2 separate regions of the Homo sapiens genome follow, and region 1 is linked to region 2. Evidence: fine-mapped expression QTL. A gene starts in region 2. The other region holds a variant in brackets. All regions are shown on one strand. Distances are between the middles of the regions.

What was found. PIP is the estimated chance that this variant, and not a neighbour inherited with it, causes the effect. A credible set is the group of variants that fine-mapping cannot tell apart.
Region 1: its variant is the best candidate, but not a certain one, in a credible set for the expression of LINC02128 in iPS cells (PhLiPS, PIP 0.51).

The regions. Positions count from the first base shown.
Region 1 is chr16:50,885,670-50,890,062 of GRCh38, reverse strand. The region is part of intron 1 of LINC02128 (long intergenic non-protein coding RNA 2128); the gene reads right to left. Among named protein-coding and RNA genes, the nearest start is that of LINC02128, 48 kb to the right of the region's middle. The variant AC/C (reference allele first, on the strand shown) is at 2,032.
Region 2 is chr16:50,838,106-50,842,498 of GRCh38, reverse strand. LINC02128 (long intergenic non-protein coding RNA 2128) reads right to left here and starts at 2,443. Exons shown (of 3, transcript NR_184286.1): 1 at 2,098-2,443.

The sequences.
Region 1 (4,393 bases), 48 kb before region 2:
CAACTCTTTCAAGGACGCTAAAAATTGCTTTATTTTTCACCACTAATTTGCCAACAAGCTCAGTCGTCCATCCAGTTGGCCCGAAATGAAATTCTATAATTATACAAAAGCCTGGGTCAGCGACCTTCTGATTGCAATATCTTGTCTCTTTTGTCCCTTCCTTCCACCACCTCACCCATGGGACAAAATTGCTTCAGCTCCTCCGGCAGCCTCCAGAATGAGGTGGTATTGGAAACTAGTGAGGCGTGGCCCTGTGGAGGTGTTCATAGCTTTGCAATAATTTACCCATTTTCATTTGTTTGATTTCATTAACACCTGGGTCTCAGGGGAGAGCCCAGTTGGGAAGGGGGAAAAAACAAGTGATTTCAGTTGAAATCGAGTGGTTATCATTGCCTTGTCTTGCAGTACCAAGGGAGTGTGGAATGCCAAGGGTGGAGTGCAGTCTGAGCAGGGTGATGAAGGAGGCCTCTCCTTAGAGGCAGCTTCTGCTAAAAAGTCTTGCCTTTCACATTCCTCAGTCCTCAACGGTCCCATCTCTCAAACTCACCCCATTGACACCAAGGGTATGCCCTATACCAGTGTCCCTTTCTCAACAAGCCAGCCTTACCGGCCCACTGGGCCAAGGCTGCTGGGGTGGCTACATTGAGACAGCATGGCTTAGCGGTTAAAGGCGTGGATGCCCAGAACTGGGCTCTAATCCGGCTCCAGCTCCTGCTTGCCTGGAGCCTTGAACATGGAGCTTCAACTCCACCAGCCTCATTTTCTCTCTTAAATAAAGTAGAGACGACAGCACGCACCTCATAAAGGTTGCTGCAAGGATTAGCTGGGATAATGAATGGGGAAGCACCCTGAATGCTGTGTCTGATACATTGTGAGTGCTCAGCGGAGTGAGAAAGAACAATAGTAATGGTTGCCATCTTTATGATTTTCTCTTCTTTTTCATCTTTACCGTCACCATCATCATCATCATCATCATCATCATCATCATCATCACCATCATCAATCATCACTCCCCACCTGGCCATCTCAGCCTCCACAGGCTCTCAGCAGAAAGAACCCAGTCTCAGAGGGAAGGCTGAAATGTTCTCTGGCAGTGAGCAGTCCCTGGGCCCAGCTTCCTCCAGAGAGAGACTTTGATCCAGTACAAGTCACACTACCGACCGGCATGGCACACCCTTTCTCAAAGGCGTAAGAATTCTGGTGACTTTGTGATTCCCAAGTGATGGGGAAGGACACTCCGTTGGTTAATGGCATCTGATGGTGAGAGAGTCCCTTGTGGCCAGGCTGGATCTGTTTATTCTCCCAGTTTTCTAGAGCTTCCCAGAGAGACCCCAGAGCAGGGAAGCAAAAGCCATTGCCATTTTAGCCCGTGGCAATAGAGGACAGTTGGAAACATCACTTTAGGGTGGAAGGGTCTTCCAGAGGCCCCTTGAATCAGCAACAAGGGGCATTAGAGTCTGCTTCCGTCCTCACAAGAGGTTGATCTGCCTGTAAAGGCAAGTCCTTCTATTGCCAGTAATAAGAATGTGCGGATGACTACAGCTGACATTTATTGAGCACTTACTGTGTGCAGTGTTCTAGGCACTGTCCATGTGTTAACTCATTTCACTCTTATGAGTGGCTGCTGTGTTTGTCCCCATTCTATTGCTGAGAAAGCTCAGGCAACAGGAAGTTAAGTCCCTTGGTCTGACAACCAAGAGTGGTCAAGCAAAGACTCAATCTGGTCTGCCTGACCCTAGAGTCCACGTCTTCCAGCTTTTGGACAGCTCCAGCCTTTACAAAATCCTTGAGTAACTTGAATTAAAATTTCTTCCTAGAACGTGTGCCCCTCGGTCCTGGTTCTGCATTTAGGGTTCTCTCTGCAGAACTCAACCCCCTCCAGTGAGACAGCCGTGTCCAGGGATGTGTTCAGCTCCCAGTGCCCCCACCCAGCTCCTCTGCTCCAGACTGCAAATGCCATTAATATTTAGCATTAGAAGGATCTGGTGAAGCCCATAAATCTGCATATGTTAAAAAAAAAAAAAAAAAAAA[AC/C]ACCACAGGGAATTCCTAAGTGGAGAGGGTGGGAGTAGGGGATGGGGGAGGTGGCCCTTAATTCTGCCTTGAGAAACCCCGCCTGAGGCCTCAGCACCTCCTTGTCCAGCCACCCACAAGTGAGGGTCAACTCAAGTGCCTGAGTGTCCTCTCTGCACCCTGAGAGACCGCTATTCCCAGCCATGCCCTGACCCCAGCCTCCAGCTTAGCAGCCAAGGCCCCCCACCCAGGACCATCACATGCCGGTTAGAAAGTCCCAGGCTCTGAGTGCAGTCAGATTTTTACAGCAAAACCACATTCCCTCGGCCCCAGCTTCCTTCTTTCTGTTTCTCTGAAGTAATAACTGGTCGCAGCCAGCGCCAGAGAAAAGCAGTCTCCCAATAGCTGAAAACATCTGAAACTGGTGATCAGCAGCTTCCTGATAAGATCCCAGAGTTGGGCAAGTGGACTCAAGCATGCGCGCTAAGAGGCAAAATGGCAGCATTTACTTGGTATATGACCTTCCAGGGACATTTGACTGGTAAGGGAAGAACGCCTCAAGTAAGCACACGTACAACTTCAGTAAATATACTGTGCATGGTCCCCTCCCAAGCGCTGGCAGGCTGCTGTGCATGCAGACAGCCCACCCCAATGGAAGAATCAGGGGAGAAGAGAAGCCGGACCCCAGAAGTATGCCCACATATAAGACCCCAATTCAAAGGTCAAACAGGGCACTTGTCTTTCAAGTTGCCCACTTGGCCCTCTTCCAAATATGCTTGCCTTCATTCTGTTCCCACTCTAAAACTTTTTAATAAACGTTCATTCCTGCTCTAAAGACTTTCCTCGGTCTCTCCTTCTGTCTTATGCCTACTCAGTGGGATTGTTTCTTCTGATGAGGCAAGAATTGAGGTTCTGCAGACCCATAGGGATTCGCCACGGGTAGCACTAACATCTCTCCATAGTTGTCTCCTTCTCCCCACCACCTCCCCCAGGGAGGCCTTCCCTGACCACCCTATCTACAGGTGGCCCCTTCCAGGCCCTCTCTGTCATATAATTCTGCTGGATTTTTCTCCATTGCATGGAAATTTCTTATGCATACATGAAGCCAGTGTCTCTTGTTCCTGTCTCTCTGTGCCTCAGTTTCCACATCTGTAAAATGGGGAAAATGCTACCTGCTGGGTTGTTTGGATAATGAAATGAGTTAATATAGGTACAGCACTCAGAACAGTGCCTGGCACACAGTAAGCATGATGAAAGTGGTGGCTTTATTCTTTATATTAATATCATTGCTCTCAGTATCTGGAGCAGCACCTCATACACAGTAGGCGCCCAATATGCATGTTTGAATAAATATACGAATGGATGGCTGAGCCACCATGCAGAGAGCCTGAAAAGTCCCACCCCGCCTGCTGCTGAAGACCCAGGCCACCCCCTCCTCATGGGCTATAATTACCCAATAACAAGAAACCCAGCCCCCTGGGCTTCATGCACAGCACATTTTCCAAAGATGAAAAGCTCATTCGTTAATAACTACATAGCAATATCTAAAATTTTGGTTGCATTGTGAGGCTGGGTGGCTTCCCCATTCACCAATAATGACAGACCACTTAAAAAATAAATAACACATATAATTTAAGCAACTAAAACAAATGGCAGTGTTGGCTTTCCCTGGGAAAACATTTTCACTATTTCCTCGAGGCGTCCCCATGGGTGCCCTTGCCTCGGCCTCCCCTGCAGAGATGCCTTCTCAGCAGGTGACCTGGGAGTGGAGCATGCAGAGCAGTGTCAGAGAGGAGACCTCACCCACAGCCTCCCAGAGTCCCTTCCCAGAAAAGCCTGGCCTTGTGCTCCCCAGAGGAGGGAAGGGGGAAAACTGCCTTCTCCCTCCACACCCATATTCACTATCTTTCCCCTCACCCTTTCCCCTGTGGGGAGACTTTGTAACCTCATATCCCTATGGGGCAGACAGGCAATGTACACGAGCAAAGCAGGTGGATGCATGAGGCAATAGGGATGGGTGGGGCTTGTGGCAAATTGAAGAGGAGACAGCCCTGCCACAGGGAACAAGCCTCACCAATGGTTGCTATGCAGAAATGCAGGCTCAGTTTTGCAAAATCTCCTGACATTTCAAAATAAGCCATCAATTTGAATTTAAAATGTCAGTCCCTTTAACAACCTCGCAGGTCCCTCATTCTGGGCCCTGCTGCCTCTAATTTCATCTCCGACTTCTCTACCCTTCACTCACCCTGCTAAGGCCACACTGGCTTCTTTACTGTTCTTGGACCAAGACAGGCACATTTCCACCCCAGGATATTTGCACTGAATATTCCCTCTGCCTAGAACATTCTTCTCCCAGATAAACTCATAGGTCAGGAGGCCAGT
Region 2 (4,393 bases):
GCCATGGCAAGGAATTTGGTTTTTACTCCAAAGAGAAAGAGGAAGCCAGGGAAGAGTTTTGAGCGGAAGAGTGACCTGGCCTGACTCCTGTTTCTAAAGGATCAGCCTGGCTATTGAGTGGAGGACAAGTGGGGATGGCGGACACCGAGAGGCCCGCTAGGAGATGCTGGCCTTCCCCACCACCCGTCATCCCGCACAGGCCATCGGCCCGGTAGCAGCATCCGGGACTCTCCACCCCCGGGCTTTTGCAGCAGGTTCTCAGGCAGCAGGAGGTGCTGGGAATTAACACCCCCAGGGAACAGCCCTCAGCCAATGACAAATGGAGTTGAAGAGAAGACCGCAGCTTCCCCACCTCCAGGTGGGACAATCCCAAAGTGTGCCCCACAGTGCCGCCCCAGGATCCCTAGCAGGACTGCACCCCAGTTGCCCACAGCTGTCACCTGCTTGGTGACGTACCCCGTGTGCGGTCCTTCTCTCCTCTACCACTGCTTCCTGGGACCACCTCCGGGAGAAAGCACTTGGGGGAAACTTGTCTGAAGATGTACTTCTGGGAGAACTTTAGCTAAGAGGGAAGTATGGCCATAAGTGACTCGAAGGTGGCTCAGATGGTGGTTGGCATCACACATAGTAAGAAGGGATTCTGGCTACATTAGGAAGGGATTTACAGCCGAGCAGGAGGTGAGGTCGGCAGGCTCGGGGCACCTGTCTTCACCTCCCAAGCCAGGTGGCCAGGCCTGAAGGCACTCAGCCTCCAGAAGCCCACAAGGCAGGACGGTGCCCTGACCACAAGCCCTGGGCGCCGGGCCGCCAGCCCGTGTCCTGCAGGGCTGAGGGGCTGAGGCCTTCTGAGTTAATGAGGTCCCCGGCAGAAGCACACCCCGCTGAAAATGACAAACGAACAGCATTACAGGCCGTTCCCACAATTACTATCAGTTGGCTGTAATATAAATATGCAAATTCCCTGGGCTTGAACTTTAACACCCTCGGTAGAGACCATTCATCTCTTTAAAGTATTAATTTAAGTTGTAACAGGGCCCATACATCACCGCGTGTCATTTTGAAAACAAATATTAATCAATTTTACCCTCGGAATTGCTACAGCGGAGGCGGCCCCCACGGCTGCGACTGCGGCACCGGAAGGCTGCAGCGAGAGATTTACATATTCATCCGAGCTTAAGGAAGCCGCGATAATGCAGGTACAGCCCGAAACCCACGCCCCCAGACCTTATCTGCGCGCCCCGCCGGCCCGCGGCTGCTTCTGCATGCGCCGCGCAGTGACTTGCAAATGAAACCCGCAGACCGCTGTCTGGATAACCTTGAACGCCACCGAGACAGGAGGCGAGGCGGCCTTCCAACTTCTCCTTTCCCAGAAATCAAAAAGTATTGAGAAAGGCTAGGATCTCCCTCTCCAAACGGGAGAAACAGCTCTGGCCTCCTTGGAGGTCCTGAGCAAGACAGGCTGGTCCCTGAACCCAGCTTACTTTTCCACCAGCCTTAAGAACCAGGACACCAGAGTGGCAGGTCCTGAAATGACGCGGGGGACTGGAGGTGGTGGTCTTCTGGGGACAGAAAAGGGCTGTGGAGTCATATAGCCCTGGCTTCCAAAACAGAGTCCGCACATACATGCCATGGACCTTCGCATAGATTGATTTAATTTCTTGGTTACATTAATGGAGAAATGTGCCCAGATATTAAAGATATCAACTCAAAGAGTCATTGGCAGGCTTAGAAATTATCTATGAAAAGCACCTATCACAGAAATGGGTATATAGTAAGGGCTGGGATGACATTATCAACAATTATTATTATTTTACTCAGTTATCTTCTGGGGTGACCATTCCCCTCTCCTCAACTGCACCCCCTTTGATCTTTCTACCCTTGCATCTGTAGTGGGTTTGAGGGACAGGACCTCCTGCTCCCACCCTGCCTACTGCCACAGTCTTAGTCTAACAGAATCTGCTGCCCCCTGCCTGAAGATCTGCCACTTCCTTTACAAGAAGACAGGACATCCTGGAAAGAAATGCAAGCCAGGTTGAAAGGTTAATAGCTCCCATTCCCCAAGGTGCTGACCACTCCCTGCTTCCCCTAGGGAGATACCTCCATCCTCAGCCGGAGACAGCACGCCTCCAGCCTCCTCTCGAATCAGGGCTTGCAGGGGCACAAAGCTGCTGCCATTCTCTGGTACTGGGGAGCGTCCACGTCAAGCCAGCAGAGGACACGTTGCACCTGCACAGGTGCATGAGAGATGCTCCTTCCATCCCAGAGCCATCCTACACTGGCCTGCACACCCTCGTCAGCATCCACTGCGTTGTATGCATGTACACATGCTGTACACACGGGATGCTGGCTCACTGTGTGGCTGACCTCCACATTGCAGCCCAGAAAACCTCGCAGCCCAGAAAACCCCACCTCCCTTCATTGGCCCATCAGCAATGTTGGAACTGGACTTCCATGACGAACTCTATGCATAGAACGGTGCACAGTCGAAGGGTTCTCCCCCGGAATGGTGATGCCAACCAGTGAACATCGTCCACCACCTCCTGGTAATGCTGAGTATCGGCCAATGTCAAACATTCACTGGGACAGCCGCAGATCCTGGCTCAAGTGAGGAAGAGAAATACCTCCCTATCCTTCTCCCTGGTGCTAGGGTGAGAGAAACTCATTTCATCACTGCTAAGCCTGGGACAGGAATCACTCAGGGATACAATAAAATCCCCACCCTGCAGGTATATCTGAACCAAATGAAGTATATACACCCATACATATCAAATCACATGTAAGCATGTGCACATGTATAGGCTGGACTATGTGTAAATGTGCACATTGCCCACGTGTGTTAAGCCATATGCAAGGATTTACATGTGTGTGTTCTACCACAGGTAAGTGTGCTTGTGTGTGTTAAGTTGCATGTGAGTGCACATGTGTGTTGATCCACATGTGAGTGTATGCACACGTGTATATTAAACCACATGTTGGTGTGTGCATTGCACATGTACATGTGTATTGAGCTACATGTAAGTGTGTGCATACATGTATGTTGACTCACACAGAAGCATTGCAGGCGCATATGTGTATATCGAACCACACGTAAATGTATGCACACATCATGTTGGTCTGTGACAGTCTGTGCAAAAAATGACATCCAGAGATAATGGCAGGAAATAAACACAGTGACTGTTTAACAAAGAAAAAAAAGAAAGAAAGAAATCCTGTTAAAAACACCCTATATTAAAATTTGTAATTAAAACATTCATCCCACAAATGTTTATGAAGGACCTAATTTTTTTTTCTTTTTAGAGACAGGGTATCACTATGTTGCACAAACTGTTTTCAAACTCCTGGACTCAGGTGATCCTCTGGCTTTGGCCTTCTAAAGTGCTGGGATTACAGGCATGAGCCACCATGCCCAGCTGGACCTAATATATTTCAGGGAAATGTCCAGTCAGGAGGCCAAAGGGCTGAGTTATGGGGAGTGGACCAGCCAGAGTTTTCACATAGTTCATTGAACCTAAGACACAGTTTTAGCCTATGAAATAAAGTACGCTGTAATAAATTCAGGAAATCCCAAGTCAAGTTCTTTCCTTCTGGCCTGCGACTTAGTAATCAACATGGTTATTCCCTGCTACTTAAGGAAAACCCATGGTTCTGAAGGACAGTGGTAGTATATAGGTAAAATCTTCCAGAAAACAAGTGTGTTGGTTTTTTTGTTTTTGTTTTTTGAGACAGGGTCTCGCTCTGTCACCCAGGCTGGAGTGCAATGGTGCAGTCATAGCTCACTGAAGCCTCGAACTCCTGGGCTCCAACTATCCTCCCACCTCAGCCTCCCAAGTAGCTAGAACTACAGGTGTGCACCACCAGGCATGGCTGGTTTTTTAAATATTTTTTGTACAGACAGTCTTGCTGTGTTACCCAGGCTGGTCTCAAACTCTTGATCTAATGCAATCCTCCTGCCTCAGCCTCCCAAACTGCTAGGATTATAGGCATGAGCCACTGTGCCTGGCTGTGGTTTTTTTTAAGTGCATAGATTTTTTTTCTAAGTGGAATGTTGTAATAAGTTGGCCTTTGCCAGGAAATCTATCTTGATGTCATATTTTCCACGCAGGCCCAGGGTACCTTGTCAGTAGATCTCTAATTTCCTGGAAGTCAATTACCCAATCAACTGAGCAGCAAAGACAGTGATCTTGGGCAAGTTACTCACTGTGCTTCCATTTCCTCACCTGTGAAACAGGGACAACACCAGGACATGTCTTTTAGCATTGTTGTAAGGATGAAACCAGTCCAAAACTGACCCTGATACATGATGAGCGCTCACTAATGTTAGCTATCATTAATCACCATTGTCATCACCATAACTCATCATTGCCAGCAGACATTTTATTTTATTAAGAATGCT